4 linked regions of the Homo sapiens genome follow. The protein of the gene in region 4 purifies or fractionates together with the protein of the main gene of each other region. This does not show direct contact. Each region holds a gene or a part of one and is shown on either strand. Other genes may lie near its edges. The genes, in order: HPN, SLC18A2, TMEM169 and ADAMTSL3.

The links.
Region 1: the proteins of ADAMTSL3 (region 4) and HPN purify together in Homo sapiens (co-immunoprecipitation; one large-scale study listed by IntAct). This does not show direct contact.
Region 2: the proteins of ADAMTSL3 (region 4) and SLC18A2 purify together in Homo sapiens (co-immunoprecipitation; one large-scale study listed by IntAct). This does not show direct contact.
Region 3: the proteins of ADAMTSL3 (region 4) and TMEM169 purify together in Homo sapiens (co-immunoprecipitation; one large-scale study listed by IntAct). This does not show direct contact.

What each region holds. Positions count from the first base shown.
Region 1 is NC_000019.10:35,044,354-35,052,218, reverse strand, and holds part of HPN (serine protease hepsin precursor), read right to left. Parts: intron 2,957-7,865; exon of another isoform or gene 2,930-2,956; coding exon 2,828-2,929; intron 2,745-2,827; coding exon 2,703-2,744; intron 1,774-2,702; coding exon of another isoform or gene 1,698-1,773; intron 1-1,697. UniProt on the Homo sapiens protein: Serine protease that cleaves extracellular substrates, and contributes to the proteolytic processing of growth factors, such as HGF and MST1/HGFL. Plays a role in cell growth and maintenance of cell morphology.
Region 2 is NC_000010.11:117,242,212-117,250,076, reverse strand, and holds part of SLC18A2 (synaptic vesicular amine transporter), read right to left. Parts: intron 6,107-7,865; coding exon 5,764-6,106; intron 1-5,763. UniProt on the Homo sapiens protein: Electrogenic antiporter that exchanges one cationic monoamine with two intravesicular protons across the membrane of secretory and synaptic vesicles.
Region 3 is NC_000002.12:216,086,040-216,093,904, reverse strand, and holds part of TMEM169 (transmembrane protein 169), read right to left. Parts: intron 1-7,865.
Region 4 is NC_000015.10:83,981,129-83,988,993, forward strand, and holds part of ADAMTSL3 (ADAMTS-like protein 3 isoform a precursor), read left to right. Parts: intron 1-1,144; coding exon 1,145-2,216; intron 2,217-7,562; coding exon 7,563-7,690; intron 7,691-7,865.

The sequences.
Region 1 (7,865 bases), on a different chromosome or scaffold from region 4:
CTTATTCCCACTGATTCTTCTTACCCCCATCTCACAGATGAGGAAATTGAGTCTTGGAGAGAGTAGGGACTGGTGGGAGGCCCCACAGCTCAGAAGGAACTGTGCAGAACTGAAATCTGCCTCTGGGTGTGAGCTAGAAAGAAGTGGGTGAGTAGAGACTTCTGTGTGAGCAGGTCATTTGAGCAAGGGACTGGGCCCTGAGGGTGCTAGAAGCCAGTGTGAGGTGGGGGTGGAGAGGGGCCTCCACACTAGGAGGCTTGGAGCCTGTGATGGGTTGGGATTTTATCTCAATGCCACGTGTTGTCACGGAGGGGCTTTTGACAGGGGCGTGATCCCTTCGCTCTGTCTCTGATGTGTGGTCAGCCTCGGGCAAGTCAGTTTGCTTCACTGGGACTCAATTTCCCCCAAATGCAAAATGTTGGGATGTAACAGCCCTAACTTCATAGGCCTGCTGGGTAAAGGCTGCCGCCAGGGCCTGGCATATGTCAGTCTTTACTATGGCAATGAATTCAGCTGTTCTTTTTTTTTTTTTTTAACAAGCAATCAAGTGTAGACACTATATACAGTTACTACGCAGGCTGCCTGGGTTCAAATCCCAGCCCTGACACTGACTAGCTCCATGACCTGGGGCAAGTCACTCAGCCTTTCTGTGCCTCAGCATCCCCATAGGAAAATGGGTTGTGGTGGTGCACACCTGTAATCCCTGCACTTTGGGAGGCTGATCTGAGAGGACTGCTTTGAGCTCAGGAGTTCAAGATCAGACTGGGCAATGTAGCAAGATCCCATCTCTACTAAAAATTTAAAAAATGAGGTTGGGTGTGGTGGCTCATGCCTGTAGTCCCAGCACTTTGGGAGGCCGAGACGGGTGGATCACCTGAGGTCAGGAGTTTGAGACCATCCTGGCCAACATGGTGAAACCCCGCCTCTACTAAAAATACAAAAATTAGCTGGGTGTGGTGGCACGTGCCTGTAGTCCTAGCTACTCAGGAGGCTGAGGCAGGAGAATCACTTGAACCTGGGAGATGGAGATTGCAGTGAGCCAAGATCGCGCCACAGCACTCCTGCCTGGGCGACACAGCGAGACTCTGGCTCAAAAAGATAAAAATAACAATAATTTGTTATTGACAAAATAATTTTGTGTAGGCATGGTGGCATTAGCCTATAGTCCCAGCTACTCAGAAGGCTGAGATGGGAGGATTGCTTGAGCCCAGGAGATGTAGGTTACAATGAGCTAAGATCGTGTCACTGCACTCCAGCCTGGGCGACAGAGCAAGACCCCATCTCAAAAAAAAAAAAAAAAAAAAGAAAGAAAGAAAGAAAGAAAAAAAAAAGAAAAGAAAAACAACAGGTTGTTGGGAAGACTTAATGAGTTGATATCATAAGGTCCCAAGGCCTTGGCTGGTGCATACAAATGCTAAGTGCTGGTAATGATGATTAATGTTGATGTTGGCTTTTCTTGTCTGGATTTTCATTTCTGATTTTAGTGTGAACTGAATCCTTTATGGAATTAGATGAGGCTCACAGACATGAAAAATACATCCCACCACCCAACTTCCCCTTTTTTCCTGCTGTCCTGCATCAGGGAATGGCAGCTTGAAGTTGGCATTTGGGAAGATTCATTCATTCATCCCACAGTTAGTTTCTTTATCTATTTATTTGTGTGGCCATTCATTCCACATGCCTGCAGACACACTTACAGTGGATAAGTCTAAGAGCTGTTCCTGGCCCCTCGTTCCCCAGCTGCATGTCCTCTCTGGTCCTCATTTTGCACATCTGTAAAATGGAGCTAATTACCAGGGACAGGCGCAGTGGCTCATGCCTGTAATCCCAGCACTTTGGGAGGCCGAGGCGGGTGGATCACAAGGTCAGGAGATAGAGACCGTCCTGGCCAACATGGTGAAATCTCATCTCTACTAAAAATACAAAAAATTAACTGGGCATGGTGGCACACGCCTGTATTCCCAGGTACTTGGGAGGCTGAAGCAGGAGAATCGCTTGAACCTGGGAGGCAGAGGTTGCGGTGAGCTGAGACTGCACCATTGCACTCTAGCCTGGGTGACAGAGCAAGACTTTTTTCTTTTTTAAAACAAACAAACAAAAAAACTACCTCCTAGGAGAGTTAGAAGGGTCCACTGAATTTATATCATGCCTCCCCAACATGTTTTCACCATGCCACGCAGTAAGAAACACATTTTTACATCCTGATGTAGCCCATAGCTCTGTAGTCTGGGGCAAACTGCTGCATTGCTCAAAGCCTCAGTTTCCCCATCTGTAAAACAGGGAGAATAACAGTCCCACCCTCAGAGTGTGGGGATGCAGTGGGATTACATGTATATGGATGCAAAAAAAAAAAAAAACAAACAAAAATTAGCATAACCTTTACTTACTGAGAGATGTACTGTGATAGTCTGTAATCGAATCTATTTCATACTTAAAAAAAAAACATGGTTTTCCAACTCACTAATTTAATTTTATGAGGCACTCATGAGTAATACACTGGTGTCTGAAAAAGTCTGGGTTAGACATGTGGGGTGCTTAGAATAGTGCCTGGTACATAGCAGGCACTCAATACAAATGCACTATTATGATTAGCATTTCTGCATGCATTTGTGCATTTATTCAACAAATACGCTTGTTGAGCTCCCGCCAGATACACGTGTCCTCCAGGGCTCCCCCAGAGGGTCCCAGCCTGCTCCACTCACCTGGGTACAGCGGCTCCTGGTCACTCCTGAGGAGAACAGCCACTGCAGAGAAGGGAGGGGTGAGGGCAGGCAGGCTGGAGGCTGCAGGGGCCAGGGGAGGTCAGAGGCACAGGAACCGCTCTCACCAATGGCCCAGGATGCCGCCCCGATGGCTGTCAGAAGTAGCAGGGTCCCCGCAGTGAGAGCTGCCACCTTGGGTCTGGAGCAGCATGGCACAGTCCGGCCACCTGCAACAGACACCATGCTGGGGCCACAGCCAGGCCTGTCCTCATTGCGGCAGGGTCTGGGCCCGAGGCCAGCTCTGCCCTGCCCCCAGGGCTAACTTATTATGCCCAAGCATGTCCTCCCCAGGCCCAGTTTCCCGGGGCCAGCAGTTGACAGGGCTGTTCCTCCCCTGCCGTGTGAACAACCAGGTGCCCAGCTCCCCCAGGGTTCCAGCTGGGAGGGGGGCATGGCCGGGCCACCTGCCACGGTCTCCACCTCCGCCCTGCACTTTCCTGGCACTTAGGGAATGTCTCCTCCCCAGTGACACTGTGCTTTTGTATTTCTGTCTTTGCTTTGGGCCATCTCTTCTTGGGACTGTGACCCCCAACCTTTGCCCTCTTGGTAGCTCTCTTCCCTGCCGCTGGCATTTCCTCGCTGCCTCAGTCGTTTCTGCTGTTCTAGATGCTTTGCCCCTAGATACCCCCTAAATCAGACCTCTCTCATGGTACCCAGTTGCAAGATCAAATTTGCCCCTCCACTTGAAAATCTGCCAGCCTCATTTTATTTTATGTATTAATTTTTTTAGCGACGTGGTCTTGCTATGTTGCCCAGGCTGGTCTCAAACTCCTGGGCTGAAGCGATCTTCCTTCCTCAGCCTCCCAAAATGCTGAGATTACAGGAGTGAGCCACTGCGTCTGGCCAGCCTCATTTAAAAATATTGACCCTACCCCTTCCTAGCTGGAACCTAAGGCAGGTGCCATCATATCTTTGAGCCTCAACTTTCTTATCTATTAAATGGGCATCCACTGAGCACCTACTTCTAAAAATAATAATTTAAAGTTATTTTCAAGAAGAAGAAGAATAGCTCAAATTGTATTGATGCCTCCAGGTGCTAAGCACCGTTCTAAATACATCAGCTCATTTAGTCCTTATTTCAATCCCACAACTATGATTCCTGTTTTTGAGATAGCTCAGAGAAGTGGGGTCACGTGCCCACAGTGACAGCCTGGAAGAGGCAGAGCAGCGTCCAGAACCCTGGGCAGGTTTGATGCCAGGTCCCCTGTGTACAGCCACGAAGCCATCCTGGCTCTCACTGTGCGGAAGTGCCTGGCACATAGCAAGTTCTCTATAAATGCTTTATAAATCATCAGAGATGTGTGGGCCTGAGCAACTCCCCTCCCCTCTCTGAGCCTCAGCCTCAGTTTTTTTCTTTTCCTTCCTTCCTTCCTTTTCTTTCTTTCTTTCTTTCTTTCTTTCTTTCTTTCTTTCTTTCTTTCTTTCTTTTTCTCTCTCTCTCTCTTTCTTTTTCTTTTTTTTTTTTTTGAGACAGGGTTTCACTGTGCTGCCCAGGCTGGAGTGCAGCGGCGCGATCATGGCACACTGCAGTCTCAAGCGCTCAGGCTCAGGTAATTCTGAGCCTCCCGAGTAGCTGGGATTATAGGCGCACACCACCACACATGGCTAATTTTTGTATTTTTTGTATTGACGGGGTTTGCCATGTTGACCAGGCTGGTCGTGAACTCCCAGACTCAAGTTATCTGCTTGTCTCAGCCTCCCAAACAAAGTGTTGGAATTGCAGGCGTGAGCCACCGCGCCTGACCCTCAGTTTTTTCATCAGCCTAAAGAAGCTTTATTTGTTTACCATCCTACTGAACATCCGCTGTGTGCCTGGCACCTTTCTAGGTTCCGGGAACATAACCCAAAGAAGACAGATAAGGTTACGACTCTCAGGGGTTCACGTTCTCATGCGTGTAGGTGGGGAGTGGGAGACATTAACAAGGAAACAAGTAAATGAACCCAATAATTTCCAGATTGTGGCAGAGGCTGTGAAGAAAACCGTGCAGGCTGGGGCAGCAGGTGGGCTTCTGCAGGGGATCAGGGATCACAGGGCCTCCCCTAGAGGAGACTTCTGAGCTAAGCTCTGAAAGGTGAGGTGCCAGCCACACACAGACCACAAGGAAGGGCACTGTGGGCAGAGGGAACAGCACAGGCAAAGGCCTTGAGGCAAGAATAAGCAGGCTCTCTTATGTCAGAGGCTGGAGAGGCCATCGAGATGGCCAGATGGCCAGAGCTTGGGGAAGGTAGTGGGAACCAAGGCTGGGGCCAGCTGGGGAGGCCTGGTGGCACAGGAAAAGGGATTTTATTCCCAGGGCAAAGAGGTCCTGGAGATTAAAAGCCAACTCCTAGCCGGGCTCGGTGGCTCACGCCTGTAATCCCAGCACTTTGGGAGGCCGAGGTGGGCAGATCACGAGGTCAGGAGATCGAGACCATCCTGGCTAACACGGTGAAACCCCGTCTCTACTAAGAATACAAAAAATTAGCCGGGCGCAGTGGCAGGCACCTGTAATCCCAGCTACTCGGGAGGCTGAGGCAGGAGAATGGCTTGAACCCGGGAGGCAGAGCTTGCAGTGAGCCGAGATCGCGCCACTGCACTTCAGCTTGGGCGACAGAGCGAGACTCTGTCTCAAAAAATAAATAAATAAATAAATACATAAATAAATAAAAGCCAACCCCTTCACTAGGGATTATAAGAAGGCCAAAGAGTAAAGGCTGCTGAAAGCCTTCAGCTGGGCCTGGCTTGGGTTCAACTGCCCTTGGCAGCCGCAAAGCACCCCAAGGTGGCAGGAGCTCCCAGCTCGCCCATCTGCACCCATGGTGATGTGGCTGGTGAACCCGGCACCAGGCCAGCACCTGGAACAGAGCAGGGAGTGGTCTAGGACCTTCCTGGTGTGGCCATTATCTGGGTGTCTTAAGAATTTGAGAGCTCAGGCTGGGCATGGTGGCTCATGCCTGTAATCCCGGTCCTTTGGGAGGCTGAGGCAGGTGGATCACTTGAGGTCAGGAGCTCAAGACCAGCCTGGCCAACATGGTGAAACCCCGCCTCTACTAAAAATACAAAAATTAGCTGGGTGTGGTGGCGGGCGCCTATAGTCCCAGCTACTCGGGAAGCTGAGGCAGGAGAATCGCTTGAACCCGGGAGGTGGAGGTTGCAGTGAATCAAGATTGCGCCACTGTACTCTAGCCTGGGCAACAGAGCGAGACTCTGTATTAAAAAAAAAAAAAAATTGAAAGCTCAGTGGCTCCCATCAAGGCATGAGGAAACACTCTCTTCCCCAAAAGAGGCCCCAGTGGGCCAGACCAGCCCAACTACTGCCGGCTGACCCCTGCCTGTCCTGCGAGGGGTTCTCAGGCCTGCCCCCCAACTCTGCCCAGGACCACTCTCCAGGTTCCAGCAGGAGGTCTTGGCTCCCGACAGCCACTGGGCTGGTCTTGCTTGCTTTGTTTTCAGCTGTGCCTGCCAGGGCTCTAGGCCATGCAGAATGCAGCCTAGAGGCCTTGGCACATCTGGTGGGACAGGAAGCAATGCCACTATGTATGTGTCTCCTAGGGTGAGAGGAAGAACCTCCTTCCATGCTGTGTGGTTCAGAGGACTTCAGCGCCTCCAGTGGGACAGGAAGCATCTGCATCCTGGGGTTCCCCCAGTATGAGAGGCATCCTCCCTGCATGTCTCTACTGGGACAGGCAGCATCCTCATCTGGCCCACGGTGTGGGACGCATCCTCATCCTCCCTGCGTGTCTCTACTGGGACAGGCAGCATCCTCATCTGGCCCAGGGTGTGGGACGCATCCTCATCCTCCCTGCGTGTCTCTACTGGGACAGGCGGCACGTCAACATCAATTCTTTGATCCCAGCAGCAGGGCTATTTCCCTTGGTAAGCCAGACCTCCCCCACCCCTACATCTCCCTGAGACTCTCTGCCCCTGCTTCTCCAGGCCCCTCTGGATGCCTTGGGTCTTCTCATAGGTCAGTTCTTCCGCCTCCACCATTTGGCTGCAAAGACCCCCACGCGTAACACCTTTGGCTCTCTGGCTCTGAAAATCCACTCAACTGGTGGCTCCGTGTCTCGGGCCTCATCTTACATGACTGCAGCTTCCTGTATAAATGCTCTCCTCTTTGGACTTCTGGGACACCAGGCGCACCTGATTTTCCTTCCCGCCTCTGAGGCTGCTGTCTTCACCCACCCTCTACCTACTCCGTAAAATCCAGAGTTTGTAGGGCTGGCCGCAGCCTCCCCCTGCTCCTCCTTGCCCCTAAGTCTGTCTCACCCACCTCTGTGGACTCAGTTTCCCCTCTGTCCCCAGCCCTAGACCCTCTTCCAGGTCCCAGGTCAGGGCTCCTGCAGTCCTTTAAATACCTTTTAAATACCTTTCCCTGGGACCTCCTAGTCCCTTTGCCCCTACCAGGTCCCAGAATGTCTCCCCAATGTCTCCCCAAGTATATTCTTCCTCCCGGTCCTGTCTCAGAGGCCCTCACTCCTAGGACCATCCCCATCTGCATAACATTCCCCTCCCCCGACAGCCTGCCAATCCTCCTGAGTGACTCTCCTTCCCCCGTTTCCTTCTTTCTCTCCATCTGCACCTTGCTCCGGCCCCATCCAACCGCTGGGCTCAGTCTCCCTTCTAGCGCACCCTCCACACGGAGGCTTGGGGAACCTACTGAGACACCAAATCCAACCTGTCCCCTCTTTACCTATAGAACCCTCTGTGACTCCCTAGTACCCCCCAGACAGCTTAAGTCCCTCAGCCTGGCATTTCCAGCCCCACTAGGGTATAAGCATGGCTTTCAGAGATTTGGGAGTATGTTTCCCCCAATTCTCAGACAACCATGTGGGTCACTATCAGGTACCAGAGAGAGCTTCCAAAAAGCAACCCAAACAGTAGAACTTGTAAAATACAAGTTAGACAAGAGAAGCAGGGACTAACCACTGGCGCCACCTTGTGGAGAGACCTGGTACTGCAAGGAATTGGCCAGCTCTTCCCCAAAACAGTCCCACCCCTGCCTGGTCCAGCTTGCACACCTCTTCTCCCACCCAGCTCAACTTCCAGCTTCACCTCCAGAAATACCACAATTGGCTACGTGCACACCAGTGCTGTGTCACCTCCCAGCTTCCCAGAGAAGA
Region 2 (7,865 bases), on a different chromosome or scaffold from region 4:
AGTGGTGGGCAGAAGGACCAAACCCTTTCTGCTTCCCCACAGTATCTCCTAAACAGACAGAAACTCAACTGACATTAGTCACAATCTGTGTCTGAGTTGCCCCCCTTGTCTCAATTCAGGGCCTTCTCAATTAAAGTATTGCTAAGCAGAGCCAGATCTGATTCAGCAAACCTTTAGCCAAATGTCATACTGGCCCACGGTCATCCTCTACAGAGCATCACGAAGCAGTTAATCCAATTTGAGTAAGACTAAAAATCACATAATGAATCCCTAGAAAAACATGTAAAACAATAAAAGTTATGTTAATTATATATACTTAGTCATTGGAGAAACCCCATCTGTCCCTAAATGGTCAATGAAGACAATACTTCTCTAGTGTTAATAATTAGCTTATCCTTGCCATAGAGACTAATGGAAGCTCTCTTCTCATGATTGCTAAAACCACAGTTTCCTCTACCGTGGTAAATTACAAGAAGCATACAGACTACAGAGCCCCGAAGGGTGCAAACTATCACCAGATGCAACGAGAGACAACAGCTCCCTTCCAGTGATCCCTACACACTCCTAAAAGGTGTGCAGTAAATGAATGTCAGTAAATGGAATGATATTTTCAATTTGCCTGGATATAGTAGGAGGTTTGTCAATCATTTAGTAAATAAAATTCTTCGATTCCGCTTGTCAAAATTCTTAGGTTCTGCTTGTCTTTTTCAGCTACCAGAGAATTCCAGGGGGCACGGACTTCTCACTTTCCTGGGCGTGAGCCCTGTTCTCTGACACATAGCTTAACAGAGCTTTTGCTTCTCCTAGGAATGTTCTAATTCCACAGCCAGTTTCCTCTGATTTCAGAAGCAAAGACTCATCAAGCCCTCCCTACCATCCTAACCACATGCAGGATGGGAGATCTCTTCTCAGAACAGCCGGTTTCCCTGTCCATAGAGAAGCTGAAAAGGTCACTGCTTGTTCCTACACAGCCCACTTCAGACCCACTGGCTGAAGCTAGCAAAAAAATAAAATAAAACCATGGTAGATTTCGTAGAGATTTCATGCCCTGTGGCTTCCTCCTTGTCGTTCAGATGTTAGCTAAGATTTGCAAGCAAAAAGAACTGCTTTCAAATATACTAAGTAACTATGGAAATAAATTAAGCCATTGACGCTGGCTTGATAAAAAGCAGATCACTGAGACAATGACAAGCTAAGAAGGAAGCAAGGGAAACGGTCCCCAGCAATGAAGTTAACTCTTTCCCAAGCCAGTCGTTTGGTGTGGAATATCTTTTGGTTCTGAAGATGCAACTATTATTTCAACCTTATGCTAAGCAAGACCACAATGCCATATCGTTACCTGACTGAGGGAAGAGAGAAATGTAAACGTGTTGTCCCATTGTTCATGTGCCTGGAACTTTCCTCTTATGGACATATATATCTAAAATTTGCTTCTTAGACCAAATGATGACCAAGTATCACTAGTATAATTTCTGGTACCACCTGCACACAACTGCAATCATGAAATGAATAGTTCAGCCAAAATTATAAAATAGGAGGCAAGAGGTTCCAACATGGAAATCAGGTCAATCCAGCAACCTCAGGCTTTCTTGGAAAGTGTGCTATTGGCCAGGTCATCACTACACACACCCAAATCAAAGGTTTTTGCCACCTAACTGGTCATATATTTTCAGCAGAAATACAGGATCTGAATAACAAATGAAACAGGAAGAATGTGCATCCTATTAGCAGTTAAATGAACCCAAGAATTGTTACTCTATATTTTCAGGGTTTGGTGTGAGAACTTATCGAATATTTAAAAAAAACAGACAGGGCCGGGCATGGTGGCTCACGCCTGTAATCCCAGCACTTTGAGAGGCTGAGGCAGGAGGATCACTTGAGGTCAGGAGTTCGAGATCAGCCTGGCCAAATGCTGAAACCCCATCTCTACTAAAATACAAAAAAAATTAGCCAGGCATGGTGGCATGTAGTCTCAGCTACTCAGGAGGCTGAGGCAGGAGAATTGCTTGAACCTGGGAGGTAGAGGTTGCAGTGAGCCGAGATAGCCCCACTGCACTCCAGCCTGGGCAATAGAGCAAGACCCTGTCTAAATAAATAAATAAATAAACAGGCGGCCTACATTTTGTGACTCCTACCCACAAAAGCCACACACATGGCACCATCACGACTGTGAATAGAGGATTCCAGTTATGGTGTGGTGTGGTGTAGAATGTCTCGATTCAGAGTGGGTCCCACTTCAGTTAAAACAAGCAGCTTTGGAAAAGAATAGCTCTGCCCAGCCTGACTACAGGAAGCTTTCCCCACACATCTTTAGGGATGCACGAGGCTGGACCAGTTCACATCAGGGACTGGAAAAAGACTGAATATTTCAGGGACCAGGGAGGTTCCATGTCCACAGGAATCAGGCTGATCTTTTCTAAACTCTCTGCTCATTGATTAAAAGTAGCAAAATCAGCAACTCACTGGGTCTCCAGCAGTTCTGCCTGGTACAACCAGGAAGAGCCCAAGTCAGTGCAAGAAAGACAGATTTTGAGCTGCATTCTTTATTTCTAGTAGCTAAAGGTACAAGCTGTATAATTGTAAGCAGGTGGGAAGAACAGGAAGCGGGGAAGAACAAAGCTTGAAATGGGACAGTCGGAACATGTGGCTACAGTCCTGCCACTGTTGTGGTAAATGCTTTCTCCTCCTGAACTGCAAACTCCTTTGCCTATAAAATGCTAGGACTGGCCCAAAAGCTTTCAGGAAAAGTCTCTGCAAGCTCTGATGCTCCATATTTTTAACTACTCTTTAATCAGAAACATATTAACCAATTTTAAAAAGCCTTTAAACACATTTGTTTACAACACTGAAGACTTGAGTCATACATCTTGCTCATGGAGGATGTGATTGGCACAGTTTACATCAAAAGACTGTTTGCAATGGCTCACAAGTTAACTCCTTGAAGACAATTAAAGGCAAATGGAATGCACATTTGTCCCTTCTCTGAATCCATCTGAACTGCGGTGGGAAGCAGAATCTTGGAGTGTCCAGAAGAGCTGCCCAGTCCCCAAATTCATATCTACTGGGCTTGGAAATTATGAGACAAATTACAAATCAGGATCACAATATGAAAATTTATTTGCTCGCTGAGGGCGGTGGCTCACGCCTGTAATCCCAGCACTTTGGGAGGCCGAGGTGGGCAGATCACCTGAGGTCAGGAGTTCGACACCAGCTTGGCCAACATGGTGAAACCTCGTCTCTACCAAAAAATACAAAAAATAGCCAGGCATAGTGGTGCACGCCTGTAATCCCAGCTACTGAGGAGACTGAGACATGTGAATTGCTTGAACCCAGGAGGTGGAGGTTGCAGTGAGCCAAGATCACACTGCTGCACTCCAGCCTGGGTGACAGAGCAAGACTCTATCTCAAAAAAAAAGAAAAAAAAATTTGTTTGTCCTTCCATATTACCAGGCAGCACTAGAAAATCATTTTCAAATTTGCTCGGTAGCTGGACAAAACAGTTGGGGATTACAATTTTGCTCTAGATAATTTCTAAAGTGGATTACTCACCATGAGAATAGACTAAATTTCACAAGTCACAAAATGGAAGATAATGTTTTTGAAGTCCCAAACATGAGCCTGGTGTGGCTACAGCCTCAAAGCCGTTGGAGTATTTAACAGGGGAAAGAGCTCACTGGTTTTAAACAAGCCTCTTCCCCATGGCATAAGCAAAGCATTAAAAATAAGAATGGGATTTTTAAAAAAGCTTTTCATTTGCCATTTGCGTTTGGAAGATTGGAGTACTCACATCATTTCAGCCGAATTTCTAAGTATTACACTGTACGGCTAGTAACGTTCCACCCAAGTGATTGGCAAGGTATTATTACGATAATGTCCTCAATTTTCACATACAATATTTGAGCTGTTTGCTTTCTCAGAATACAAAACCCTGAGCTATTTTCTGTAATTATACCAGATGCATTTTAAGAAGCATTCTTAGTCTTGAAAAAAGGAAAGAAAACAATCCTGCAACTACTGAGGTCGGTTTGGTTTTTCTCCTGAGAACAGAGGAGTCACTGAATGTCACCTTCTTAATGGGCTCACAGTCAGCCCTTCGCTGGGTTAATTTGCTTAGCATGTTTTATGTAGCAGCCTTAGAATATTGCTCTGCACAGACTAGAGGGCTGGACATGGCTTGAGATTGTTGAAATCAATTCAATGGCACCCTTCCATCCAGAAAATTCAACTGCAGATGTTGAGAATGTGCTCCTGTCCGACTCAAGCTCCATGTGTCCAAGGCAGCTTGTGCTGGCGGAAGGCCAGATCTGCCATCCCCTCCTTGAGCCCCAGCCACCACCCCAGGCTTCCTCACCTCTCGGTGCCCCTAACCCTAGAGTCGCACAGGGCTCTGCTCTCAGAGCTTGGTTGATTTAATGCTCTGCTGCCACCTTGAAGTGTTTCATAATGTTTGAATGTGGGGCACACATTTTCATTTTGCACCGAGACCCACAAATTATGCAGCCAGTCCTGCGCCCCACTCCCCACGCCAAAGGCAGAGGAAATGTGAAGTTCTCCCTGCTCCCTGCCCACCTACCCTGCTTAAAATAGTGCTTGATTCACTCATTTCTTTTTGGCTTTGGAATTTCTAATGGCTCCCAACTGCCCCACACAGAATCCCACTCCTTTCTCAGCCCAGCACTTGGGGCCTCTTACAGCCTAGCCCAGCCCTGGTTTCCCCTGCCTCCTTAGTTCCACCCTCTCCTCGCCACCATCTCTTCCATCTCTAGTCTAGTCTTTGTTCCTGCTTCTGGGCCTGGTCTGCAGGTAGGACTCTGGGCACACCCCTCCCCACCATTTCTGGTGTTTTGTAACTTTCACCTAGGTAGCTACACTGCGCACTTGGCAGCCCACCACCAACACTTAACTGTACCAGCTCCCACTCCTTGCACTGACACCTTGGGGGCCTGCCTCCTCCTCTCAGCTGCAAGGCCCTTGTCCTGAGCTTTGAGCCCCCACGGACCAGGCAGAACTGGTCCACCTCAGCTACAGAAGAACAAACACTTCACCAACAATGGAGAAGTAAACAGTTATTCCAAACAATGTGGGTTCAAAAAAATCTAGAACAGCCTGATTCATCTGAAGCTAGTTTGGGCAGCTTGGATTATCCAGACAACAGCCTCAGTTCTCTTCCTTTCATGCACGTGGACGTGGCTACGTAGCCAGCAGAAGGGAAGAACACAGCCCATGACCTCGGCATCAACTCGGAGCTCCATCTGCGCACCAGTGCGTCCAACCTTTTCCCACACTCCCTACCTGGTATCTGTGAGAGGCTTTAACATGCCAGTTCCAAAAGAAGACACCTTGGCTCTCTACAGAGAAGTGCATGGCCTGAGGTAGGAGATAAGAGGAGGCCACATGGCTCATAAAATAGGATGACAGCCATGGTGGCTGTAGAGTTCCTGCTGCCAAGGGCGATTCTGACAAATGCACTTACGAAACCTGGCATTTAGACAGGCCAAAGTCCTCCCACTTGGTGGAAGAGGTCCTCTTTATTCTGTCTTCTTTAATATTTTCTTACTTGTTGAGCAACAGAAGGGAGAATAGAATAGGAAATTGTGGTTATCTGGGAACAGAGACATAGGGGAAGGGGACTGGGTTTTCCCCAGCTCACCCACCATGGATTTTCCAGACTCTCACCAATGAGTAAGAAGCAGAATTCCAGGAAGGACATAAGCTAGGACTGATACAAATATCAAACTCTTTGACTAAAGTAGTCTGCCCTACCTGTTGGTCAGTAGTCCTATGAAAGGGTTGGTGATGAGCTGGACGGTGGCTTTCGAGGCAAACAACAGACCAACTTGCACGTTTTCATTCAGGAGGTCTTTGTCTTCACTGGGACAGTCGGAAGGAACAGCGGACGCGTTGGTCACCATGTGCTGTGTGGCGGTCTGATGAAGTGTCAGGTCTCTGGTAGCATTCCCGGTGACCATAGTCGAGTTATCATAATAGGAGAAGATGCTCTGGAAGCTGTCTGAGATGGAGGCAGTGTGCACTGGCCTGGCCGTCTGGATTTCTGTAGCATTCTTCTCATGCTTAATGCTGTACAGATAACTTGGGATGATGGGGACTGGGGATAAGAGCAGAATGGCAAGGTGGTGATCACACTGAAACCCTCTCCAGGAAAAAAGCCAGCAAAAAACTATGGTTGTGTCGGCAGGGAGCAGTGGCTCACACCTGTAATTCCAGGACTTTGGGAAGCTGAGGCAGGTGGATCACCTGAGGTCAGGAGTTCGAGACCAGGCTGGCCAACATGGAGAAACCCTCTCTCTACTAAAAATACAAAAATTAGCTGGGCGTGGTGGCACCCACCTGTAATCCCAGCTCCTTTGGAGGCTGAGAAAGGAGGATCGCTTGAACCTGGGAGGTGGAAGTTGCAGTGAGCAAAGATTGCACCACTGCACTCCAGCCTGGGTGACAGAGTGAGACTCTGTCTCAAACAAACAAAACAACAATAACAACAACAAAACTATGGTTGTGTCAAATGCCAGAAGAGGTCCAGAGGGTGACAGGTCTACCCCAAAACAGGAGCCCTGTGCCATATGTCTATAACGACATTGGAGCAAGTTCACTTTACTTAGCTCACTAGAAAGAACCATGCCCCCAACGGCCCTGAGAACTGTCTCCTCTCAAAAGGCAGCTGCTGTGCTGAACTGACTGGTCCCAGAGATTCTGTCATTTGTGGGTTTCTTCCACATTGTTCCTTCAAGGAATATTTCAGAAAAGCAAAATGTGGCCTGACGTTAAGAGAGTGCTGACCTGGAGTCAACCAGTGCTTCTAAGAAAGAGAGGCTCAAAAGACTTTCAAATGAATGAATCAAGGAAACAGAAAACTACACTTCATTATGTGTCTTAGAAAAAAATTAACCTGCAGGAAGTAATAACTTGGAAATTCTGCAACAGGCCCACTTCATCCTTCTATTATGAGTGGGAATCTGTAATTTTTCCTACAACTTGTAAGATTTAAGAATTCCTAAGGCTTTCACAAGGAAAAAGCAAAACTGAAACAGGCCAGGCACGGTGGCTCAGGCCTGTAATCCCAGCATTTTGGGAGGTCGAGGCGGGTAGATCACCTGAGGTCAGGAGTTCAAGACCAGCCTGGCCAACATGGCAAAATCCTGTCTCTAATAAAAATACAAAAATTAGCCAGCTTTGGTGGGGCATGCCGGTAACCCAGCTACTCGGGAGGCTAATGCAGGAGAATCACTTGAACCCGGGAGGTGGAGGTTGCAGTGAGCCAAGACTGTGCCACTGCCCTCCAGCCTGGGCAACAGAGTGAGACTCCATTTCAAAAAAACAAACAAAAACCAAAATAAAAAGCAACAACAAAAAATACAAATTAAATTGTGAAACATATAATCGAAGCTGTGAGCACATGTGTCCAATGGAGCATTCGAGCCGAAGCAGAACTAATGCCGTTGGTACTGAACAGGGATGAGCTCCACGGCTCTGATAACTCCTCGAGATGAAACCTATCAGATGCTCTGAAAACTGCTGTGAGAAAACCTGCAAATGGAGAGAAAGGAAACAGCTCCCACCACTTACAGTCTAAATGAGTCGTGATTTTTTTTTCATTCATTAAAAACTGGGATTTTTTTTTTTAAGGAAATGCATGCCAAATACTTCTCTGTTAATGGGCCTAATTAAGGGACCTGGATTTCGATTATTTAATTTTTCAAAATTCCACTATAGGAAAAATAATAGAACCAAGATTGTTCAAATTGTTCTTGCAATGGTTCCTGAAATATTTCCATCTCAAGTCATTCACTAATACAGTATATCTAAATGTCTTGTTTTTGGAGTAAGGGATCGAAACTTGCTCTTTTAGG
Region 3 (7,865 bases), on a different chromosome or scaffold from region 4:
TCCATTCATTTTGAAGCAAATTTATATATCTTTGGTAATTACCATGTGACAGGAAGTACTGTATAGCATATCTCTTAAAATGCCAGAATACATATTTTTTTTTCTCATTTCAATGTTTCTAAAATTTAGGTAAATTTTAAGCTCAATGGAATGGCTTTTTCTCCCCCTCCAGGCAGGGGAGTTCTCCTCTGCTGCCCTCTCACCCAGTATTTCCTCTAGCCTCTGTTGATTTTCTTTGTCTTTCCATTGGATTGGCAGATGTTGGATCTAAATTAACTTTATAACTGGGCACTTAACCCAATGCCTGGAATAAATCAGGCACCCAGCGACACAATTGAGAATCTTAGTGGTAGGATCCACAGGATGAAATGGGCAGGTTTCACTACGTCCTCACTGCCTGACTTTGTCTAGGGGGTGTACTAGGGGCAGAATGAAAGCCATTATCTTTAAATTCTTATCCATGGAGCTTTCTGGACCAGGAGATTCATTTGGCTGAGGTGTCTAAAAGTACAAGGATGTACACAGGAAGAAGCAGGGGAGAGAGCCCTCCCAAGGTAAATAGCTCCAGAGGACAATTAATCCAACCATTAGAATGCTGAGCAGGCCTTGGGCATTGATGAGCTTGACCAGGGCTCTTCTACCAAAGTGGCTTCTACACAGAGGACAGTGGACCTCTACCCAGAGGAAACTGAATGGGGAGGCTGAATGCAATCCACCCCCAGGTGAAGATTTTATATGTATACACACACACACACACACACACACACACACACACACACTTCATTATTACGTTAAGTTCCAGGATATACATATATATGTATATCTATATATGTACTTATACATATGTATATTTATATACAAATGTGTATATACATACATTTGTAATTCTACTCTCTAAGTGTCTATGTTTAATACAAAAATGTTTTCCCTGGTCCAAGTCCTCTTATACACTGACACTCAGAAAGCTGCATCATGGTAATTCTATGGTAGGAATGACCTCTGAACAAACCACTTTGTACTTACTTGAAGGTGCAATGATCACAGCTTGGGAGGCCACCCTAATCCACCGTGTTTTCCTACTTAGATCATCTGTTTCTCTCTGTTGTTTTCTGAGGCAGCTTGTGAAGGGCCTTCTTTGGCCCTTCTATACAGCATGAATTTTCAAACTAGGGGTTGAGACCCCGAGGAGATTAAAGGACCAGAGCTTCAGAGCTGGGAGAAGGTTTATGTTCTGTACTCCTTACTCCTTCTTTAAAGATGTACCAAGATGTTCAGAAGGGAGACAGAAATGTTAAAGAGTACACGTGAGAAGGCAAGTTGCAAATCTCATACTTCTTGTTCCCTTTTCCTCTCTCTTTGTTGAGGGGGTGGTGCTCTAGGAAGATGTGGCAGGGCAAAGTGAACACATGCATGGAGATGATGACCCTTATTAATGGGCCTTATAAACATTAAAAAGTGGCCAAGTGCGGTGGCTCATGCCTGTAATCCCAGCACTTTGGGAGATCAAGGCGGGCGAATCACTCAAAAAAAGAATTAATTTAATTAAAAAAAAACATAAAAAGGTGTAGTGTTCGACACTCTTGATTTGGTTGGGCACAATGGGAGAGGCCAATGTTAGATAACAGGAAGAGCTTCCTGAGCCCAGGGACAGACTAGTACAGAAAATAGTAGCTAAGAGAAGCTTTGGAGTCTCTTGGGGATATAAAAGATAAACATGGTCATCTTGTTGGCTGATGGAGGAGAGGGACAATCCTATCAGAGGCAAAAAGAGAGATGACTTTTGAACATCCCATTAAAACCTTAGACAAGAAATATGAAATGTAAAGGGTGAGCTCCTGGCTATTCACCTTAGGGGGGCTATTTTTGCTTCAGGCACAGCTCATTTTAGAAAGGTGCCCAGCCAATGTCTACTTACAGTAGTCACAGGACAGAGACACTGTCCTTGATTTACCTTGAAACATGATTTCCTCATCTCCCTACAATTAGAACACTATCCTTTGAGACTACAAAACATTCCCACAAACTTAGGAAAAGATGGGTTATTTTGTAGTCATGGTAAGTAGACAATAGAACCAGTTTTAAACCTGTTCAATTGATCAACAACAATCTCCCTCAGTGTCTTAGTGCATTTGGGCTGCCATAAGAAAATACCATAGACTAGGTAGCTTATAAACAACAAGAATTTATTTTGTACAGTTCTGGGAGCAAAAAATCCAAGATCAAGTTTAGGGGTTTGGTAGGACTCACTTTCTGGTTCATAGATGGTGCCTTCTCACTGTGTTTTCACGTGGCTGAAGGAGCTGACTAGCTCTCTGGGTCTCTCTCTTTTTTTTTTTTTTTTTTTTTTTGAGATGGAGTCTCACTCTGTCGCATAGGCTGGAGTGCAGTGGCGCAATCTTGGCTCACTGCAACCTCTGCCTCCCAAGTTCAAGCAATTCTCCTGCCTCAGCCTCCCAATTAGCTGGGACTACAGGCACACGCCACCATGCCCAGCTAATTTTTGTATTTTTAGTAGAGATGGGGTTTCGCCATATTGGCCAGGCTGCTCTCAAACTCATGATCCGCCCGCCTTGGCCTTCCAAAGTGCTGGGATTACAGGTGTGAGCCACTGAGCCTAGCCTCTGGGTCTCTTTTATGGGGGCACTAATCCCATTCCTGAGGACTCCACCGTCATGACATAAAGCCTCACCTAATGCCATCACTTTGGGGGCTGAAATTTCAACATATGGATTTGGGGGGAAAACAAACCATACCATAACACTCAGCAAACATGTTTTTGGAAATTAACCCATCCAGTCAGTCCTTTGTTTCTGAAAGTCAATCAGGTGAGTGGCTCTGTCCCTGTTTGGCTGACTTTCACACTAGTGTGAGTTGACTTTTGGCCAATCAGGGTCTGGCACTCTGATGATGGCTTTCAAAAATGTATTCACTTAGGCAGTTGTTGATTGAACATGTTTAAAACTAGTTCTGGTGGCTACTTGTTATCAAGGCTACTGTAAAAACAGTGTTTTCCTAAATTTGGGGATCCTTTTTACTGTTAGTTTCCTGCAAGTCTGGAATATATCAGATGTCACAGTACAAGAATATGAATTATCTGTTGTGATGTAACAAATTACCCAAGAAGTAAAGGTTTAAAACAATAAAAAAGTTATTATCTCACACAATTATGTGCGTCAATAAACTGGGAGTGCCTTAGCTGGGTGGTGAGTAGTCTTCTCTACCTGCTTCCTGCCTATAGAATTTGGAGGTCCAAAAGTGTTTTTTTGTTTTTATGGTTTCTGAACCTTTTAGTATTCTGTGAATAGAATTTTCTCAACATTTCTGTGGGATTCCTATAAATAGTTTCTCTGAGTCAGAAGTGTGAGAGTGGCTTAGCTGGTTTTGTTTCAAGATCTCTAAAGATGTCAGGGCTGCAGTCATCTGAAGGCTTGAATGAGGCTAGATCTGCTTCCAAGATGGTTCACTCATGTAATGCTGACTCAGTTTCTCTCCACATGGGCCTCTCCATGGGCCATCTGAGTGTCCTTACAACAGTGGCTGGCCTTCCCCAGCATGAGTGGTCTGAAAACAGGTATTTTCTTTGACCACCCCAACTTGACTCTTGATCCCCATCTCTTCCTCATCTTTGATTTCCTCCTTCTCCAATAGCTCCAACTTCCTTCTACTGGCTCTTTCCCCTTTGCCTTCAAACTCAGAGTTCCTTATCTAGAAAAAAATAACTTTACCTTGCCACTTTACTCTCTCTGATAATCTCATTTTTCTCCAACCAAGCTTTTCTATCAAATAGTTTATAGCCACTCATATCCAGTTCATCCTGCAATCTTCTGCCCTTTCTCCCCACTCCCAACCTCTGTACACACACAGACACACACACATGCACGCACGCACACGCGCAAGTCACTTGCAAAGATGAGAAATAGGCCAGGAAATTAGCATTTATTGAGCCTTATGTGTCAGGCTGTAAGGTAAACTCTTTATAGATGTTCTCTTACTTGCATCTCTCAACAAGCTTGACAGGTAGGTCTTATTTTCCACACTTGACCTATTAGGTTCAATGCGTTAAATATAGCAGTGAGAGAACTTGGGTTTAATTCTATACTTGCATAACTCTAAAGTCCAGGATTTCCCCACCAAGATTTAGAAGAAGTCAAGGCCAGGTGTGGTGGCTCATGCCCGTAATCCCAGCATTTTGGAAGGGCAAGATGGGCGGATCACTTGAGGTCAGGAATTCAAGACCAGCCTGGCCAACATGGTGAAACCCTGTCTCTACTAAAAATACAAGTAGCTTGGCGTGGTTGTGCACGCCTGTAATCCCAGCTACTCAGGAGGCTGAGGCAGGAGAATCGCTTGAACCTGGGAGGTGGAGGTTGCAGTGAGCTGAGATCGTGCCACTGCATCCAGTCTGGGCGAGAGAGTGAGACTCTGTCTCAAAAATAAAATCAGTAAAATAAAATAAAATGAAAATTAAAAATAGAAGTAGTCAAGTGGTAGTAGCTGCAGTGAACAGCTGATGGTTTTTGGTTTTTTGGTTCTGTTGTTTGCTGTCCAAAACCCTATTTCTCCTTCATTTGATGACAGATCCACTCATTTTGGTGAGAAACAGTCTTGAAAGTCCCTGATGTGATCACAGTGACCACTTCACCATTCTTATTCTCCTTGTCACACCAAAGCTGTTGATTCCACTAATTCCCAAATCTTTCTTGAACCTTCCCTCACCTCCTTTAACTTTCTACTCTCATTCTCTTTTACCTCTCAAACCTTCCTTCTGTTTCTTTTGCTCCCTTATCTGCTTTCTCCAACCCATAATTGCCAGTGTTTTCTAGGCCCGATTCTTAATTCATTGTCCTCTATTCTCAACAGCACACTCTGTTCCTCTTGTTAAAATATACAGCCTTCCTGCACACAGCTGTAGGACCACTTCTATGCCAAGAACGCCCAAATGTAGATCTCAAGATTGTATCTCCAATAGCCTGGCGAATATTTTCTAATTGAATTATTTAGCAAAGCATGTTCAAACCAAACTCATCTTTATTTACAGCAGAGAACCTCTCAGTGTTACCGAGAAAAAAGGAGAAGGGGGAAAGGAAAGGAGAAAGGGATAAAGAAGGAAACACCACAACATTTATGGAATTTACCGATTGTGTAATTTGGTAGGTTCTGTGTTGATTATACAGTACATGCATTATCTCACTGAATTACACATTCAAAAAATATTTACGTATTCATTTATTTTTAGAGATGGGGTCTTTCTATGTTGCCCAGGCTTGACTTGAACTCCTAGGCTCAAGCAATCCTCTCACCTCAGCCTCCTGAGTAGCTGGGACTACAGTCATGTGCAACTGTGCCCAGCTTCAGTAAATATTTATTAAGCAACACTATGTGCTATATATTGCATAGTTGTTCTAGGTACAACAATTTTTGTCTGTTTGTTTGTTTGTTTTGAGACGGAGTCTCGCTCTGTCGCCCAAGCTGGAGTGTAGTGGCGTGATCTCAGCCCACTGCAAGCTCCGCCTCCCGGGTTCACGCCATTCTCCTGCCTCAGCCTCTTGAGTAGCTGGGACTACAGGCGCCCACCACCACGCCCGGCTAATTTTTTGTATTTCTTTTTTAGTAGAGACGGGGTTTCACCGTGTTAGCCAGGATGGTCTCGATCTCCTGACCTTGTGATCTGCCCGCCTCGGTCTCCCAAAGTGCTGGGATTACAGGCGTGAGCCACTGCACCCGGCCTGTTTGTTTTTTTTTTTTTTGAGACAGAGTCTCGCTTGGTCACCCAGGCTGGAGTGCAGTTGTGCAATGTCAGCTCACTGCAACCTCAGCCTCCAGGTTCAAGCGATTTTCGTGCCTCTGCCTCCTGAGTAGCTGGGACCACAGGCATACACCACCATGTGCAATTAATTTTTGTACTTTTAGTACAGACAGGGTTTCACCATGTTGGCCAGGCTAGTCTCCAACTCCTGACCTCAAGTGATCCATCTGCCTCGGCCTCCCAAAGTGCTGGGATTACAGGTGTGAGCCACCATACCAGCCTAGGTACAACAATTTTATGAAGCAAGTATTATTTTGCAGAAGAGGACACTTGGACTGAATAATAGTAACAACAGAAACTTATTGGATGTTTATTGTGTGCCAAGTGCTGCTCTAAGTACTTTACAATAATCGTATTGTTCAATATTCACAGCAAACCAGTGAAGTAGGTACCTTTATTATTCCCATTTAGAGGAGAAATTTGCTCAAGCTTACATAGCTAGTATAGTGGTGGGACTGGAACTGACACCCAGGTTTGCTAATTTCAAAGCCCATGTTATTTTCATTGTGCCATACTACCCGCCAACATTTATGCAAAGATCTATAAACTTCTAGAATGTTCTTTGATGAACCCATTTCCTATATTAAGGACATATTTCCATATACCTAATAATAATTAGTCTCTAAGTCCTGCTAGTCATTCCTATGAAATCTTTTTGTTAATTTGTTCATTTGAATTTCTACTACCACCATATGCCAGAATACAGCCTTCATACTACTTCCTCTAAACTGGAAGACATTCTAAAATGGAAGACATTCCTCTACCATTTTTTACCATATTAATGGTGATTAATAAACAAAACAAAACAATATTTTTATTTTGTCTTGCCATTACTGACTAAAATATATCTGAAGGCCTGTCTGGTGTTTGAGGCTCTCCGTATTTGCACCCCACCCTAGGATTCAGTAGCAATTTTCCCCTTCCCTTTCCTGCAACGTGACTACTCAACACATGTGCTTATGTTGGTTTCTTCATCTTTGTCACGCTTCTCCACATCTTTCAAGCCTGGCTCAAGACAGACTCATTCGCTCACGTCCCCTTCTGTGACTACCCCAGCCCCCACGTCCTCTCCTCCCACCCTAACCCTGTGTTGCAGGTGTGTGGTGAGAATTCAATGAATGGCCCAGTATAAAATGCCTAATATGTGACTGACACTTCATAAATATTAGTTTCTATTCCCTTTCTTTTGCCTCCTTCTATTTGTAATTTAATAGCATTTGCCATCTGAACCATACACTTAATACTTAATTATGCAGCATTTCATATCATTGTATAGATTATAGATGGCATCATGAGTTTTCATTCATCTTTCTAGGTAGATAACAAACTTCTAGAGTTTAGGAACTGTCTTACTCTTCTTCTTAACCACCAATGGGAAAACCCCAGGGCTGGACATGTAGTACAAAGTCAGTATGTACTTGTTGACTTCATAGGACACAGAAGAGAAAATGTCTTACCAGAAATATGACATAAACAACTGTTAAGAAAGAAAGGCTTGATTCTCTTCCCCATTTTTGTATACTTTATTATGCTGTAAGTATTTGATCTGAGAAGCAGGTTCTAAACATTTCTCCTTCCTTTTAGATTTCACAAGAGAGAGGTTAAAAGAAAATTTTACCCAATTTCCAAGGCTTTAATCAATAGACTTGAGAGAAGAGAGAGGACTTTGTTCTTTTCTCTGGCAGTTAAGCTGTGCCCATCTTCCACTTCCACTTCCAGTCTAAAGATTATTAACAGGCTGGTCACGGTGGCTCATGCCTGTAATTCCAGCACTTAGGGAGGCCGAGGCAGGTGGATCACTTGAGATCAGGAGTTTGAGACCAACTTGGCCAACATGGTGAAACCCCCTCTACTAAAAATACAAAAATTAGCCAGGCATGGTGGCACACACCTGTAATCTCAGCTACTCCGGAGGCTGAGGTAGGAGAATCGCTTGAACCCGGGAGGCAGAGGTTGCAGTGAGCCAAGATCACACCACCGCACTCCAGCCGGGGCAACAGAGTGAGACTCTGCCTCAGAAAAAAAAAAAGATTCTTACAAATGTGATATTACAGAGTGT
Region 4 (7,865 bases):
CCTAAATACATCATCAAAGAGGATCCAGACTTCCACCCATATCACTGTCCTTCTCCCATGCCTACCTCAGAATCACCCCAGAACACATTGAGCCTTCTCTCAGGTGAAACAAGGGAGAGAAATACTTCTCTTGGGGACAGGATCTGAGAAGTATTGTCTTTGGGCCTAGCCCATTAAGAGGAGCCGATCGATGCCCAGGAACAAGTCAAAGCCAACCCCATCTCTGTTCCCTCTTAGTCTTCCCTGCTGTGCATTGGCTGCACCTGCCCTTGTCACCAGATCAGTGGTGGCAGCAGTTATATATGAGAGCTCATTATGTGCCCGCTACTGTGCTGTGCACTTGATATAAACAATCTGACTTAATTTTTACTTCCCTCCCATTGAAAGCACTAACATTATTCACATTTCACAGGTGAGGAAACTGAGGCTCAGAGAGATGAAAGAATTTGTCCAAGTGGCAGAGCTAAGATTCAAACTCAGGTTTATCTGACTTCAAACTGCCTATGCCACCTGTTCTTTTTTGATCACGGCTACCCATTGCTTCTTCAGACCCCCATGCCAATTTAATCGACATATTTGGGTTATATTCTGCAGCTGGCCAACCTCAGCCTCCTTTCAGACCCTTCAAATACATTTGCTCACATTCCCACTCTCACTTCCTCCCTCAGATTTGGGGTACCCATGGCTCTAAGCCAGAGGGCCTCTCTGCCAGATAGTAGAGACCTGACATATCAGACCCTTATTGATGGAAACATGTACCCAGAGGCTGGGTATTTATGGAGCCATTATATGAGCATGGCCTAGAACAAATATTCCTCAAATCTAGAAATAACTATTCCCTACATTTCACCAAATCATTTAACCTCATGCCTCCCCAAACCAGGGTTTTATCAAATCACTTACACATTTTCATGCACCTCATTCACACTTGCATTCTTTGCCACTAAAGTACTAGATAGTTGTGAAATTTACCCCAATCTGTGGATGTATAATGTTATTCATGGTTTTATTCTTGAATGTTTTAAAATAGTAAAAAAGATACGTTTGTTAGCCTGTATCAGCCTTGAAAGATTACTGTCAAAAAGTCTGTATTTTTGAGATGTTTATTCGTATTTTCTTTTCTTTCTTTTTTTTTTTCTTGGAGAAATCAAATCAGAGATGAAGACAAAACTTGGTGAGCAGGGTCCGCAGATCCTCAGTGTCCAGAGAGTCTACATTCAGACAAGGGAAGAGAAGCGTATTAACCTGACCATTGGTAGCAGAGCCTATTTGCTGCCCAACACATCCGTGATTATTAAGTGCCCCGTGCGACGATTCCAGAAATCTCTGATCCAGTGGGAGAAGGATGGCCGTTGCCTGCAGAACTCCAAACGGCTTGGCATCACCAAGTCAGGCTCACTAAAAATCCATGGTCTTGCTGCCCCCGACATCGGCGTGTACCGGTGCATTGCAGGCTCTGCACAGGAAACAGTTGTGCTCAAGCTCATTGGTACTGACAACCGGCTCATCGCACGCCCAGCCCTCAGGGAGCCTATGAGGGAATATCCTGGGATGGACCACAGCGAAGCCAATAGTTTGGGAGTCACATGGCACAAAATGAGGCAAATGTGGAATAACAAAAATGACCTTTATCTGGATGATGACCACATTAGTAACCAGCCTTTCTTGAGAGCTCTGTTAGGCCACTGCAGCAATTCTGCAGGAAGCACCAACTCCTGGGAGTTGAAGAATAAGCAGTTTGAAGCAGCAGTTAAACAAGGAGCATATAGCATGGATACAGCCCAGTTTGATGAGCTGATAAGAAACATGAGTCAGCTCATGGAAACCGGAGAGGTCAGCGATGATCTTGCGTCCCAGCTGATATATCAGCTGGTGGCCGAATTAGCCAAGGCACAGCCAACACACATGCAGTGGCGGGGCATCCAGGAAGAGACACCTCCTGCTGCTCAGCTCAGAGGGGAAACAGGGAGTGTGTCCCAAAGCTCGCATGCAAAAAACTCAGGCAAGCTGACATTCAAGCCGAAAGGACCTGTTCTCATGAGGCAAAGCCAACCTCCCTCAATTTCATTTAATAAAACAATAAATTCCAGGATTGGAAATACAGTATACATTACAAAAAGGACAGAGGTCATCAATATACTGTGTGACCTTATTACCCCCAGTGAGGCCACATATACATGGACCAAGGATGGAACCTTGTTACAGCCCTCAGTAAAGTAAGTAAAATAAAAATGCAGTATTCATTTTTGCACTACCTTCTTAATGGCTATTCCAGTTTTCTTGAAAATATTTTCAAATTCCTCTCCTAAGCATGTGTTTCCAACAGGATTCTTTAGGAAAGAAACTAAAAAATGTTAAGATGTGTTTTTCACATATACGTTGGAATTTTTAAATTCAACCGCCATATCATCCCAATCACTGTCGTAGAGGTGTGATATGACTGGATCCAGCAAGAATAAGTTTAAGCATATATACACTCCCCCTTTACTCAGCACTTGGCATTTAAAAATAAAATCAATATAAGGCCATTTTAAAAGTAAGCTTATTAATAGTAATCCTACATTATGTTGGAACTGCAAATCAGAATTTACAGAGCTCTTCCATGTCTAGGAGATGTGGTATCTTATTTGAGCTCACATCAGCCCCATGAGATTGGCAGGGCAGGGGTTAACCTTTCTGATGAGGTAATTGAGAAGCAGAATCCCATGACTACTTCATGGCCAATCAGAACCAAGGGCCGTATCTCTTGAATACCCACCAGTGGTATTTGAGTATCACACAAATACGTAGCCTTGTCAAAAGCTTGGGTATCTGAAGTAGTTTTCTATTATCATGCAATTTTTAAATGTCATACAATCCAAAAATAAGAATCATAGTGTTTTGAGATGTTCAAAACACAGTATTAAGTCACATATTATTCTGATCTCTATGCCAGTGTAAAAATGTCACATTTCCTTTATTTTACATAACAGATACTAATTTACTTTTGCATTCTTTATTGCCTTCAAATCTTGCTGTTTGTATACAAAGTACTATAGACATTGTGCCTTCTTTTGATTCACATGTAAGAGCTCCAGCTCTACCTTATCTGCCTTTAGAGATCGTTAAGAGACACAAATAACACAGCAGATGTGAAACTGTTTTGCATATCACAAGGTACTTTCAAAATGCAAGTTTTACTTTTATCATGTCCTTTGTGCATTGAGCCTCGTATGTGAAACATCAGAAAAAACTTAGGTAAAATTCAGTTTTTTAAAATAATAAACTATTAGGCTATATCTTAAAAAGGTAGAAAAAATCTAATTTTTGAATTTTTAATGCTAGAACTATGAACACAAGAGTACAATGAAATTTTAGAAGTAGAATAAACCTTAAAACATAGCAGTTCTCAGAGCTTTTGGTTTTAGACTCTTTAAAATTTAAAAATGATTGAGGAGCCTAAAGAGCTTTTGTAAATGTGAGTTGTATCTATTGCTGTTTACCTCACTAGAAATTAAAACCAAGAAACATTGAAAATATCTCCATTAATCTATTTAGAAAAAATAATGGGCCTATAACATGTTCATACAAATAACATATTTTTTGAAAACCCTCCCCCTGCCACCAAAATTACTGATAACAGTGGAATTGCTTTCCATCTTTGCAGATCTCTTTAATGTCTGGTATAATAAAAGAAGACAGCTGGATTCTTTTTCCACATCTGTTGTGAAATGTTGTTTTAGTTAAAGTATATGGAGAAAATAAATGTGTGCTATACAAATGTGTTAGCTGGAAGAGAAAGAATATTTTAATATCTTTTCAGATAATTGTGGATACTCTTTAATTCTACACTAAAACTAGACAAAGGGTCATTTCTCAAAGGTTAGTTGAAATGTGCAATCTGAAACTATATTAATGAAATGTTGGTACTCTGTTTAATGAAATCTGCTGTTTTTTTCTTGCATTTTGAATAGACTTTTTACCCATACAAGATTTTTTAACACCATACATTGGTCATTTGGAAAATATTGGCTCACTGAGTGATACAGGCCTTCCAAATGTTGGTGCATTTCATTATGCAATGTAAAAAAAATACACATTTAAAAAAATCACCGTGTATCTCATAAAAAAAAAAGTCTTTAAGTTTTGGGAAGCTGTCAGACTTACAGTGGTGGATACCAGTTTTCCAAAATTCTAATTTTCACATCAAACCTTTTTCATCATTGGCAACAAATACTGTCAGTTGTGTCATTGAATTGGCCAGCTCATTTAAAAAATATATATATATATATCTACCAAATACCCAACTTTAAATCATAGTGTGGACTTTTTTGTCATAGTTTATTGGTCATTCTTTCAAGTAAAAATCATATTCCATGAAAGAAGCCACCAGTTCTTCAGCATGCAGTGGAAGTGCTTTGTGTGTACTTCCCATTGTGTCGTATGGGATATGAAAAACGTATGGACCCAAGGGTCAAGATTTAGTAAGATTAATACCTTTTACTACTTCATTAAAGACATTTCTTTTTTTTTCTTTTCTTTATTGAGACAGTCTCGCTTTGTCACCCAGGCTGGAGTGCAGTGGTGGCATCTCAGCTTACTGCAACCTCTGCCTCCTCGTTTCAAGTGATTCTCCTGCTTCAGCCTCCCAAGTAACTGGGATTACAGGTGAACACCACCACCCCCAGCTAATTGTATTTTTAGTAGAGATAGGGTTTCACCATGTTGGCCAGGTTGGTCTTGAACTCCTGACCTCAAGTGATCCACCCACCTCGGCCTCCCAAAGTGCTGGGATTACAGGCATGAGTCGCCACGCCTGGCCGTTAAGGACATTCTTAAGGGAAACTGGCATTTTTTTTTTTTCTGCAAGTAAAACATAGTAGTCAAGAATACAGTAATTACTGGTACACTTCAATATCACTGTCTTGGTTCATGCTAAGGTGCCAGCAGTCTTACCAACACTGCCTTTGCACTCTCAGTGCAAAGGTCAATACCGTTTTTAAAAAGGCTAATTAATGGCTTCGTATTATTATAAAACTAGCTTTGACTTCATAGACTTCTGGGGGGTTCATGGACTATGCTTTGAAGACTGCTAACTTGGTTCAATAATCCATTTTATAAATTGTAAGGAAAGAGAGGCTGACAAGGTTGAAGTGATCTGTTGACCTATGGCCATATAAGTACTACAATGATATAGAGGAGCCTGGTCAGTTTAAATAAATATTTATTTGAGTTCATTTTAAATAGATTGACTTGATGGAATGGCGTTAACATAAGTTTATCAGGCTGAGACCCCTGGAGCTTGTATAAAGAAGTTTTGACATGGTACATCCTCCTTAGATGTGTTTCTGCATCCTTTAAAGATCAGCCATTCAAAACAGAAGCAATTTCATATGTCTAATAAAAGGTTTTGTTTTTAATTTTTAAGATAATAAGATCCATTTTCATTTCTATTTTTCCTCCAAAACCTACCCAATTAATTTGTTCAATTTATGTTTAATTCCCTTTACATAACAAATGTTCTCATCTTTAAATATACTTTCTGAATCTTACAAATCTTTTCAGTTGAAGTAATTGAGAAATGGAATTATGTTCCTGAAAGCCTCATTCAATGAGAGAAACTGTGTAGGCATGGAGTACTGTTCGGATGACAATTGAGTAAGAAATCTCAACTAGGAAGAGAAGTTTGTGGGTGTATCAATTAGAGATGGTGCCTATAGAAAGATCAACTTTGTTATTACTTCAAGTTAAGAGTAAGATTACGCAGCAGAGGCCAAGGTCATATGTGTTACAGAATTCAACCTGGTGGTTCTCCAGCCCAAGGACAGATCCAGGCTAGGTACCCAGTGGCCCCACCTGTCATGTAAGGTTCACGCATGCTCAGCTATTTCTGATCTCAATGATTTCTCACTGGACTGTTACCTGAAACCTACAAAACAAAGGCATTATTTGAGAATTCCTAAATCATGCAAACATATATATGAAATAATTTAAGAAAATGATTTAATATGTTTATTTTTCATGTGTAGTCACTGGTTAGACTTTTGCTTTTAACCAACTATTTCTCCTCCATCAGGATTTGACACTGAAAATCTTGCCTTACTAACAGCGAGGTCTGCCATACTCTTGTTGCTCTGAGACACTTTCGCTGTTTTGACTTCTGCCAGCTTTTGTATATTTCTTATGTGTGCTGCAGCAGGGCTTGTATGCTCTTGGTACTATTGCTCTGTGCCATTATTTCATACTATTCTAATCATTCATACATTTAGTCATCAAAGATTTTTGAGAACTTGCTATATAAAAGTCTAAGCAGTGAGTATGCACAGCTGTGAATAAGATTTGGTTCCTGCCCTTGAAAAGATCACAGTCTAGTGGGAAGAAATAGATATTTCATCAAATAAATATATGAACCAGAGAAGAAGGAGCCCAGAGGAGACAGAAGATAACTCTAGGAGTATTGGGGAAAACTTTACAGGGGAAATTACATTTGATCCAGGACTCAGTGGGCGGGTCTGAGTTTGCCAGAAAGGAGGAAGGGCATTTCAAATGAAGTGAACAACATATGCAAAAGCTCACAGTAATGAAAGATCATGGAATGTTCTGGAAACAGTTAAGGTTCATTATGACTGAAGCATAGAGCGAACGACATGAAGTGACAGGAAATAAAGAAGTGGCACAGTTCATTTCATGATGAAACATACAGTATTTAGAGGGCAGAATAGTCCATATTGCTAAGATCTATGAAGTGAGATGGGGCAGGGGAAAAATAGTATATAAACCACTGATCCGGGTGATTTAGAAGCAGATTCAAATTATTAAGAATAAAATAAAATAAAAGAACAAGCACTCTTCCCTTCCTAACAAAGGTTCTTCTCACCTTTAGATATATTTTCTGAATCTCTGAATTATTATCTAATTGGTTAGGCTACACCTGACCAACTCTGATTCTCAAAGCGGTATTTACACACAGGATTTTAGGAATATCAGTAATTGGGAAACCATAATGAACTCATGCAGGTTAGCCCTAATTCTTAACAGCATGGTCCAAATCCAGTGTATGCCACAGACTTAGCATGATGACCTCAATCGACTTCTTCATACAGGAATAATGAGACCATAATCCATTGCAAAGCAGCCTTAGCCAAAGCCCAATCACCTCCAGCATGAAAATCCAAACAGAAAATCCACACCTGCAGTTTGTTAGGAAGGATTCGGGCAGAAAAGGAGTGTTTAACATCCAGCAAATGAATAGGTTTGCTAGGTTGTCTTTTTTTAAAATGTGGCAGATTAAGCATTGAGTTCACCAGAAAAGTCTTTTCTCATGTAAAGTGGGATGGGAAGACTGGATCTCTAAGCACTGTTGAGCTCTAACGTTGCTGTTAACCTATAGCAAGAGGAAACACTCCACCCTCCTGGTCTATATAGTTCTCTGCTTATAGGCAGGATGCTGGACAAAATTATCCTTTGTGAGCTTTGCCAGCCCAAAGCCTGTAATGGTGCAGTCTTCTTTCTCTGCAACTCACTGTAGCCCTAGGTCAGTTAAATTGTTATATGAATGTGTCGTCTTTCTAACTGTTCTACAGAATAATTTTGGATGGAACTGGGAAGATACAGATACAGAATCCTACAAGGAAAGAACAAGGCATATATGAATGTTCTGTAGCTAATCATCTTGGTTCAGATGTGGAAAGTTCTTCTGTGCTGTATGCAGGTAATGCCCACTGTTGAAATCTAGAATGCCTGGTTCTTTATTTTTTATTTTTATTTATTTATTTATTTATTTTTTTTTTTTGAGACAGAGTCTCGCTCTGTCGCCCAGGCTGGAGTGCAGTGGCGTGATCTCGGCTCACTGTAAGCTCCGCCTCCCGGGTTCACGCCATTCTCCA